3 linked regions of the Homo sapiens genome follow. The protein of the gene in region 3 purifies or fractionates together with the protein of the main gene of each other region. This does not show direct contact. Each region holds a gene or a part of one and is shown on either strand. Other genes may lie near its edges.

The links.
Region 1: the proteins of ZNF488 (region 3) and USO1 purify together in Homo sapiens (affinity purification with mass spectrometry; 2 studies listed by BioGRID and IntAct, with this or other methods). This does not show direct contact.
Region 2: the proteins of ZNF488 (region 3) and LUM purify together in Homo sapiens (affinity purification with mass spectrometry; one large-scale study listed by BioGRID and IntAct). This does not show direct contact.

The regions. Positions count from the first base shown.
Region 1 is NC_000004.12:75,727,438-75,731,091, reverse strand, and holds part of USO1 (general vesicular transport factor p115), read right to left. Parts: intron 1-3,654. UniProt on the Homo sapiens protein: General vesicular transport factor required for intercisternal transport in the Golgi stack; it is required for transcytotic fusion and/or subsequent binding of the vesicles to the target membrane.
Region 2 is NC_000012.12:91,105,287-91,108,623, forward strand, and holds part of LUM (lumican precursor), read right to left. Parts: coding exon 2,832-3,337; intron 1-2,831.
Region 3 is NC_000010.11:47,374,178-47,377,831, reverse strand, and holds part of ZNF488 (zinc finger protein 488), read left to right. Parts: intron 1-3,292; exon of another isoform or gene 3,293-3,371; intron 3,372-3,654. UniProt on the Homo sapiens protein: Transcriptional repressor. Plays a role in oligodendrocyte differentiation, together with OLIG2. Mediates Notch signaling-activated formation of oligodendrocyte precursors.

The sequences.
Region 1 (3,654 bases), on a different chromosome or scaffold from region 3:
TCAGCCAAGTAATATACTGCTTCATTTATTCTCCATGCTCTTTCCCATAAATGAACTATGCTTTTCAAAAGGACATCGTTTTAAGCAAGGGGTCATAATGAAACATGTCTACCAAATAACCTATCACAAATGCTAGCATCTCAAAATCTAACACCACAAAAGTTTTTCTGTAATCCCAGCACTTTGGGAAGCTGACAGGAGGATTGTTTGAGGCCAGGAGTTCAAGACCAGCCTGGGCAACATATTGTGAGCCTGTCTCTTTAAAAAAAAAAAAAAGTTTTCAAATTAATGGTGAATAACTTTTGACACAAAAAATGTTTATGGCACTTCTGCTTGAGGTATAAAAATAATAAGCATAACTTTACTATACCTACAACAGACAAAAAGCAGAGTACAAAGCAGTAATATTAATAATAAAAGGTAAATACATAAAAAGAAAGAGGAACAGTATTTGGTATCAACAAATGTATATAAGGAATTCTAATATTCTTTCCTAATCAGATTCAAGAGTAATGTTTTTAATGAAATAAAGGAAAATAAAGAAAAAGGCATCAGAATTATATATCCTCTTGGACAATTTTTCCCTAAGTATGCTTCTCAAAATAATAGATAACAAAGTTCCCTAGAGGAAAAAAAAAGGTCTGGTCAGATAAATTTGGCAAACAGCTTACTTTTTATCTACATTTTAAAAATATCTGAAACTATAACACAGTGCCTGCTTACAAAACCTTGCATAAATACTAGAGGTTTTTTCTTTGTTAGTGGTCGTTGCACACACTTCTTTGCTGACAAAATTTTTTTCATGGACATCTATTCAAATTTTTTGAAGCATACCTTGGTAATGCTACGGCATGTATAATTTAAATGATTCTAACTTTTAAATGAACCCTATATAATCTACAAAATTAACCTTCCAAAAAGCCATGTAGTATTCAATAGGCCCTACTTAAAAAGAGTGCTTCGATATAGAAATGACCAAAACACAAATCATTATTACAGTTCTCTCCGACATTGTTATTGCAAAACAGGCCAAGAGAGAAAACACATTCCAGTTATGACATTGACCTGGTTATTAATGTAGAATACATCAACCCAAATAGGAATTTCAGACTACACATTTATAGTAACATGGTATAAAATGTGCTTGACTAAACGAAAACTATGTCTAAATTTAAGTCCACACTCTTTAATAACAATTTTTATTAAAAGAAAATATGGCTGTGTTTATATTGTTAGCCCTTCTGCTTTCTGAGACAGCTGATGAAAGTTTGATCTGGAAAGAGACCCCATAACAATGTTCTAATTCTGTATGCTTTTTCTGGACATTAGCAACTTTCATGTCTCGGGGTCCAACTTGAGAACAGAAAATGCCTCTATGATTCATCATCAAATGTAGTTAACACTTGCTTGGAATTTTCAAGAAACTAGCTTTAAAAAAGGTACAAGTTGGGGGCTGGGCGCAGTGGCTCACGCCTATAATCCTAGCACTTTGAGAGGCCGAGGCGGGCAGACTGCCTGAGCTCAGGAGTTCAAGACCAGCCTGGGCATCACAGTGCAACCCTGTCTCTACTAAAATACAAAAAAATTAGCCTGGCGTGGTGGCGTGCACCTGTAGTCCCAGCTGCTCGGGAGACTGAGCCAGGAGAACTGCTTGAACCCAGGAGGCGGAGGCTGCAGTGAGCCGAGATTACGTCACTGCACTCCAGCCTGGGCGACAGAGCGAGACTTCGTACCCCACCCCCCTACCCAAAAAAAAGGTGCTAGATAGAAGGCAGATATAACACTAAGCACACATAAGCTTACATTCAAAAGCATGAAGTCCCTGGTGGTCTAGTGGTTAGGGAAAAAGAGAAAACTAAAAAACAAAAGCATGAGTAGGATTTGTACTATAATAATATGCACCCAGCAAACTGTGTCAAGGCTAAAGAGGCTTCAATCACCAGAAATCAGTGTCAAGTAAAAAAGAGAAATGAAATGTAAAAGTACCCGACTCTGGGGCCAGGTGCCGTGGCTCACACCTGTAATTCCAGCACTTTGGGAGGCCAAGGCAGGCGGATCACGAAGTCAGGAGATCGAGACCATCCTGGTTAACACGGTGAAACCCCATCTCCACTAAAAATACAAAAATTAGCCGGTGTGGTGGCAGACACCTGTAGTCCCAGCTACTTGGGAGGCTGAGGCAGAAGAATGGCGTGAACCCGGGAGGGGGAGCTTGCAGTGAGCCAAGATTGCGCCACTGCACTCCAGCCTGGGCCACAGAGCGAGACTCTGTCTCAAAACAAAACAAAACAAAAACAAAAACAAAAGTACATGACTCTAAAACAGAAAAAGTTTAATGTGGATGAAATTCTGAATTTAAAATATCCAGTACTTTATAGAATTGACTATCCTATGATAAAATATTTACTACTTGACAGGTTCTCAAGAACATCTTTCTTTTTGAGACAGTCTCGCTCTCTCGCCCAGGCTGGAATGCAGTGGCACAATCTTAACCACTCAGTGGTTGCTCACTGCCAACCACCGCCTCGATTCTCCTGCCTCAGCCTCCTGAGTAGCTGAGATTATAGGCATGTGCCACCATGCCCAGCTAATTTTTGTATTTTTAGTAGAGACAGGGTTTCACCATAAAAATGTGCTTGACTCCAGAAAGGAGTTTGGCCAGGCTGGTCTCAAACTCCTGACCTCAAGTGCTCCATCTGCCTTGGCCTCCCAAAGTGCTGGGATTATAGGCGTGAGCCCCCGGCCTGAAGAACATCTTAATATCAGTCCAAAGTTACTCTTAACTAAGAGTATGAAAAGCTAGATACTATACAATCAATCACATAACTCTCACACATTTAAAAGATACTTAAATTCAATAAGAAAAAAAAAAACAAGAAAGCAGTCAAAGCATTTAGTAAATATGAAAAAATCCCTTAAGTAAAAAGCTTGACACAATGAACTTCATTTGAGAACTTCAGTTTCTAGTCTTTAAAAAGTGTTTTAGTACCTAGTAACGTAAGTTGCTATAATTACAGATCTGTGATTTCTTTCAAATAAAACTATAATTAATTCATTTCACAAGTATTTACTGGGCATCTACTACTGTGGAAAAACAAAGATTAAAATACATTATGAACCCTGCCCTAAAGACACTTTAAGAGTCTAGAAGGAATAAGATATATGCACACTGTAGTTAAAATGTAAAGGTAGCTCAGAAAGGAAAAAGCATCTGAAACGTGCTGGGGGAAAGTACAGATTAGGGGAGGCGCTGATGATGAATTTAAATAACAGGTCTAATTCAGACAAAGAAAAGAGCCCTTCCATTGGAAAAAAGATGTTAGAAAAAGCAAGAAAGATGGAAAGCCACCATGAAAAAAATTTAATTTTGCAGAAATGGAAAAAACTACAAAATAATAAATGATAATATAGAAGCTAGGGGTTCCAAGCTCTGGTAACTCAAATATCCTGGCCAGACTAAATCATCAATTAAAACATCTAAAATTGTATATACACTCCACTGATGCTCTATAAATACTTCTAAATTAGTAATCCATGACCCCTTTTACCTGTTGTACTTCCTGGTGGAACGAAATAGTGAAACAAATTTTATTCATACTGTACCTCAGAATAATAATTTTCAGAAGGCAAATTGCTTTATTGTGGAGGTGATTA
Region 2 (3,337 bases), on a different chromosome or scaffold from region 3:
TTGTTAGAAATAACACATCTATCTTACCGTGTTGCATGAAGATTAAATTAAGTTGTGTAGAGCACTTCACACAATACTAGTACATAGTATGTCCTAAATAATGACTAATATCCTTTTGATTTTGCTGTCTTTCTAAATTACTCTACACTAGGAAGATCTCTGATTGGGCTAATGCTTAGAGTTGCAAGTTTGAAATAGAAAACAGTTTGTTTTGGCTATATATTCCCTAATATTAGAAAAAAACATTGAGGGGAACTTTCTGTATTAAGTGAATGTGAAATGTTGATATAGTTGATTATTATCTGGCAAAATAACCTAAACTGAGGTGATACATAAAAAGACAAGGAGAATACCTGACTAAATGTACAAAGATAAGGAAGAAAGAAAGGAAACTATTATGTTACCTTTTCAAATGACCACTATGTACTGGGCACTGTGGTTTCTATCTCAGCTTGGCACTGACAGGCCGTTGGCCTTTCTCCCATAGACCTCTCTTCCATCCTTTACTCATGCAATGTATACCTTCAAATGTGCCTACTTCTGTATCCTTCTTTGTTTCAGAGAAAGAAGTAGCCCTGCTCTTACGAATAATCTCTACCCACCAAATCTAATGTACTCCGTCATCCCTTAAGCATCGTAAATTCCTTTAGCATTTTGGTCTGTCAGAGAGTATCCTTCCTCCTAACCACATATGTTTAAAATGAGGAATCACATATGGCCACATAGTGAATTTTCCACTGGAAACAACAAGAGGGGTTTAGCTGTGTTAGCCTGACTGTGTATTGTGTGACAGTCAAACAGCACCAACCCTTACCTTGGCTGCTTTTCAGAAACAACAAAGAACATGTGGAGCTTCAGAGTTGGCGAGTATGGTCTTCTTTATGAAAACGTTTAACCCTACTAGAGGTTATATGAAACTGGCAGAATTAACAAACATCATATGCATAAAATATATTGTAATATTTTCTGACAGCAATACCTTTATTCAGCATGGCCAGAAAACCAATTTTCATCATGTAGAGATGTTCAAATTCAATAGATTATTTTGCAGACATTATTACTTTATATGTGAATCAATGTTTCCTGCTTGATTTTTTCATTTAGAAAGCCTTATCTGTGAATCATGGTTTTTCTCTTCTACCAAGCTCTGCCAAAGATTAATGGCAGAGTTATCCTGGTAGGAAATGGTGGATTTCAATTTCCCATTGGAATCTATACTGCTTAAGTTGAAGAATGTCCCTGAAGACCACATAAGTGCATAAGCAGTCCAAATGCATCAGATCAAACTTCATCCAGAAGATAAATGAAAAATAAAGAGAGGAGAAAGAGAAAGTGTGGAAATATCAAATGAGGGGCAGGATTGTACCCAAGAAAAAAAAAGCTCTGTAACACTATTTTTCTTCTAAAAAAAAAAAAAAAAAAAAAGATGTTAGAATCTCCCATCATATTTCTTTTTCTCTTTAATCTTCTTCACAGTCCTCCAGAGCACTGTGATGGCCACACACCATAACAGAGATAACAGAGGCAGATGATGATCATGACAGCAGAGTAACATGGTGAGTCCCAAGTAGTTGATGTCAGGGAAGACCATGAGACTATATGGGGCCAGGCACAGTGGCTCACGCCTGTAATCCCAGTACTTTGGGAGGCCAAGGCAGATGGATCAGTTGAGGTCAGGATTTTAAGAACAGCCTGGTTAACATGGTGAAACCCCATCTCTACTAAAAACATAAAAATTAGCCTGGTGGTGGTGGTGGCCTGAGGTGGGAGAATCGCCTGAGCCTGGGGGGTGGAGGTTGCAATGAGCCGAGATTGCACCACCTCACTCCAGTCTGGGCGACAGAGTGAGACCCTGTCAAAAAAAAAAAGAAAGAAAGAAAGAAAGAAAACGAAAGAAAGAAAGAAGGAAAGAAAAAGAAAGAAAGAAAGAGAGAAAGAAGAAAGAAAGAAAGGAAAGAAAGAAAGAAAGAAAGAAAGAAAGAAAGAAAGAAAGAAAGAAAGAGAAAGAAAGAAAGAAAGAAAGAAAGAAAGAAAGAAAGAAAGAAAGAAAGAAAGAAAGGGAAAGAAAGGAAGGAAGAAAGAAAAAGAGAGAGAGAGGGAGGGAGGGAGGGACAATATGGGCTTCTTTGTGGCTATGGAGTTTGCCAACTGTGCCACTTTTGAACTCATTTCTTCCTCCCTCATCTAGATCTTGTCAAAAAATAAATGTAGGACACAAATCTAAGCCATAAAGGAGAAAATAATAAGAGATATATATGAGGAGGTAACACAGCAGGATGAGTTGGCCCGGAATTTTTAGTTTGAAGACTTACATATTAAATTCTGTGACCTTAATTGTTCCTTATCTGGATACACCAAAGAAAGGCTGGATATTGGATATATGATTGAGCTAGAATTATTCTTTGTTTGAAGTAGAGGGATATTTTGTGGACATTTTTTTTTTTTCCAAGACAGAATCTGGCTGTCTTGCCCAGGCTTGAGTACAGTGGCACGATCTCGGCTCACTGCAACCTCTATCTCCCAGGTTCAAGCAATTCTCCTGGCTCAGCCTCCTGAGTAGCTGGGATTACAGAAGTGCGACACCACGCCTGGCTAATTTTTGTATTTTTAGTAGAGATGGGGTTTCATCATGTTGGCCAGGCTGGTCTCAACTCCTGACCTGGTGATCCGCCCACTTCGGCCTCCCAAAATGCTGGATTTACAGGAATGAGCCACAGCGCCCGGGCGACATTTTGTTTTTTTAATGGAGCCAGATGCAATATCTGTGTTGTGCAGCCCAGGTATTTAAACACTTGAGCACACATCAAACACAGGAACAGCTTTTTACTTACTCTCAAGTTGATTGACCTCCAGGTAATAGTTTTCAAGGTTTTCATTGACAGTTGGTATGTTTTTAAGCTTGTTATAGGACAGATCCAGCTCAACCAGGGATGACACATTGAAAGAATTTCCAGGTATTCCACTATCAGCCAGTTCGTTGTGAGATAAACGCAGATACTGCAATGCATTAAAACGCTTGAAATACTCATCAGGGATGTTGCTGATCTTATTGTTGTCTAAGTAGAGAGTTAGAAGAGAGACAGGGAGACCAGAAGGCAGTCTGGCTATCTGATTGAAGCTCAAGTCAAGGTATTCGAGTGATTTAAGACCTTTAAAAGCAGCTGAAACAGCATCCTCTTTCAGCCGATTGTGCTGGAGATGGATGAAGGTCAGGTTTACCAATCCTTCAAAAGAGCCCAGCTTTGTGATCTTGTTATGAGTAAGCTGCAGATCCTCCAGAGATTTGGGAAGTGGGCCCACAGACTCTGTCAGGTTGTTGTGGTTTATATGCAGCTTC
Region 3 (3,654 bases):
ATTAAGTCAGAGCTGGCAGGCAGAAGCCCTGTGTGCTCTGTGAATGTGGCAGCTGCTGCTAGATGCTGACAGGTGCAGGGGCAGGGCTGAGCCGGCGCCTCCGGGTGGCAGCCGTGTGTGTGTGTGTGTGTGTGTGTGTGTGTGTGTGTGTGTGTGTGTGATTGTTATTGCTGGCTCCTCTGGGTGGCAGCCATGTGTGTGTGTGTGTGTGTGTGTGTGTGTGTGTGTGTGAGATTGTTATTGCCGGCATCTCTGGGTGGCAGCTGTGTGTGTGTGTGAGTGTCTGTGTTTGATTGTTATTGTTCTGTGAGAGAGTCCTGGAGGTATAGTGCTCTGAGCTGAGGTGAGTTGTCACATCCATAGCAATCAGGATTCTTTGGATGCAAACCACAGCGATGGACTCTGGCCAACTTTGTGAAGAAGGAATTAATTAGAAGGTTATGGTGGCAGGTAGATCACAGTGTCAGAGGAAGAACTGGAGAAATAAGCTCAAAAAAGACCGGGATTGAGCTATTCAGAGAGTTCCAGTACCAGGCACACATAAGCAGCTTCTCAAACTGAAACTGGGTTTGGTTAGGAAGGATGCTGAGTAGCATAAAACAGAACCAAGCCATCTGACTGCTCTTGTCGTAGAGATCGCGTATTCCTCCTTTCCTGTCAGCTGGTTTAAAAACCTGGGGCAAAGGGGGACCCTGCAGTCCACCCCACTCTTCCTGAGATGCCCTGCGGGGGTTGCAGAGATAGATCAAACACAGGCTGTCTCTCCCCAGGGACCAACAGTCCAGTAGGTGATAGCGGCAACACTGACTATGGCCAGGCAGGCTGCTGAAGGTGGTCTCTGCAACCCGAGTCAGCATGGCAGCCCTGACGGTGTTTTGGTGTGAGCAGCTCGCAGATGCAGCCCAGTTGTTTTGCTTTCTGGGCTGCTTCTTGAGGGTCACCTCAAGTCTGCACACAAGGGTAGAGCTGCAAGCTCTGGAGGGAAATAGCACTGGGTTATAATTTCCACTGGAGGACATCTATAATTTCATGTCTCTGAGTGTGAGTTTGGCCACAGGCTCCTCTGTAGGTGTCTGCACGGGAACCAGTGAGGACCCTCAGGCTTGAGCCCCCATTCTGCTGGATCTGGTGGTCTGGAAGGCTGGGCATAGTGTGACTGCCTCAGCCCCTCCATTTGTGCTAGGGCTGGGGGAGAAGGAGGATGGGGTGGGGAGTTCTCTGACTTTGCACGGTGGGAGTACACCCTTCTTGGAGGATATGAGTGCAAATGGATGTCAAGGAGCCCAGAGCTCTTCAGAGCAAAGAGCTGGGCAAATTCCTGGCTCCCACTCTAACTCTCTCTCCTTATTCTCCCATACCTCCCTCGGCAGGGTTGAATTTCACAATTGGGTCTGACCTGGCTTAGTGTGAATGAAAAGTGGTCGTTTACAGGAATCCTCTCTGTCTCGCTGAATTCCTGCCCCTCAGTCTTTTCCTCACGATTGAAATATACCCAGCCCTTCTTTTCCACTAGGACTTTGCCTGTGCCATCTTACCATCCCTGATTGGTGAACTCGTATTCATCCATCAACACCCAGAGATAATATCACCTCCTCAATGGGACATTCCTCAGGCACCCCAGGCAGTCCATGGTCCATCCCTGATCTTGAAGCATTTCTCCCAAACCACTCAAGTGGGCTTGTCTCCATCCCAGGTCCTGTTACGAAGAGGTGTTTTTCTCTCTCATTGCATGTGGAGCAATACTTCCATGCTATTCATCCTGTTATCACAGAATAAAAGAACGACTGTCTCCCCTAAGAGATATGGTGTGGGTCCCTGTGGCTAGACCATGTGATCTTACCCATAAACAGTCCTCACAAACACTCTCGATTTACGTCTAACCCACTCTTGTCACTGCCTGGCATTCGCGTGTGCCGTTCTTTCTGCCCTCTCTTTTCTTTGTATCTGTCTGCCCTTTGGAGGCCTCCTGCCTCTTCCAGGAGGGTCTCTCTGATTATTCTGGTGCCCAGAATTAGAAAGTATATGGGGTACATGCTGTGGTGTGTGGTAAGTGTTTAACAGCTGGTTCTCAGCATGTAGCTGCAACATGGATTTTGGGTGATATTTTCATTTACAATAAAGTGTAAGATGAAAGTGGAACAATGAACATATGTCAGAACTTCACTTGTTTGTCAGTGATCTAAATAACTTCTTTCCTAAATCACATAATAGTTTCGGAATACTAGAAGAATAGTCCCTCAGCTTTTTGTGAGCTATTCACAATATAACAGCTATCGACAAGACAAAAATTTCAGTTTAATCTGCATTATTGACAATTTTTTTCCATTACTTTCTTAAGTCCAGACAATGAACAAAACAAGAAATCAAGCCTTGATTTATAGCATTTCCATAAATAATCCCATTCTGGCTGATTCCCTGATTTCTGGCCACTCACGATATCCCTGGATGTGGCATGAGGAGGAGTGGACCGTGGCAAGCCCCCGCACCGGCAGGTGGAGCAGCGTCCACAGCGTAGGCAATGGGAATGTGTAGTAGAATGACTAGGAAATGATGGGTTCTGAGTATGTATTGCCTGTGTTTTTAATATAACTTCTTTGACTGTAAGTTTGTATAGTTTAGTTTTGAATAATGTCTGAGTTAAAACAGCTAACTTGAAACATTCCTGATCATCTCACAAGCCACTGTGAGCTGGCTCCAGCACACCACTGGCTGCATACCAAGAAAATCAAGTTGCAGGCAGAGACGAAAACCTTCAGACAGAATTGCGTGGCTGTGTCCACTCAGTTTCGTCAGGGGGTGAGCTTTATTAAGTGCCACAGTAACAGATACTGTCATTGGTTCAGTCAACAACTGTTTCTAACCCCATCTCACTTGGCTTTCCTGCACTGCAGAGGTTGGGAAGCTAAATCCATGTTTCCCAGACTCTTTTGCAGCCAGGGTGCAGGCCTTTGACACAGATCCTCACAAGCAGCCAGATACATCACCCAGCCCCGGATGTGCAGTCGAGTCCCATGAGCTGAAGTCTTTGGCATGCAGGTGATATCTGTCACTCACGGTGGCAGGGACATCTGGACTTGTGGGGTGGCTGTGGTGGACTTTGTAGGAGTTTGGTCCCTTGTGATTGGTGCTGGTACCAGCAGTTTCTACTAGACAGTGCCAGGGCATGGTTAGGCTTTTTTTTCTGGCTACCCTGACCCTTGGAGAGCTCCCAAGCTTGGTCTCTGGCTCTCACAGGGATTTAATGAGCTGCATGATAGCCTTTAATAAGTTCCTTTCTGTTTAAACTACCCAGGTAGAGGCTGCTGTCTGCAGGTGGGAAGCCCTGATTGCTGGAACCTAAGGGATGTGAGAAATCACTGTGGAGTGTCAAGGTAACCAGGGATCTGCTCCTGGGACCTATTAATCCACCTCTTTTAGAAGGAGTCCACAGTCCTGTTTGTATTTGAATATTCATGAACATTAGAAGAGCAACTTAGTCTGGGTATGGCTATGGCTGACAGAAGTATCATGCTGTGTCACAGCTGATTATTAGATCTGCATTTTTTGCCCTTTAGCTTGTCAAAATAATGTCTAAAAAACCAGATTGATCACAAAAGATGCATCATAATGCCACATAAAGATGTCACTCGGCGCCTTATAGTATTTAGGACCATA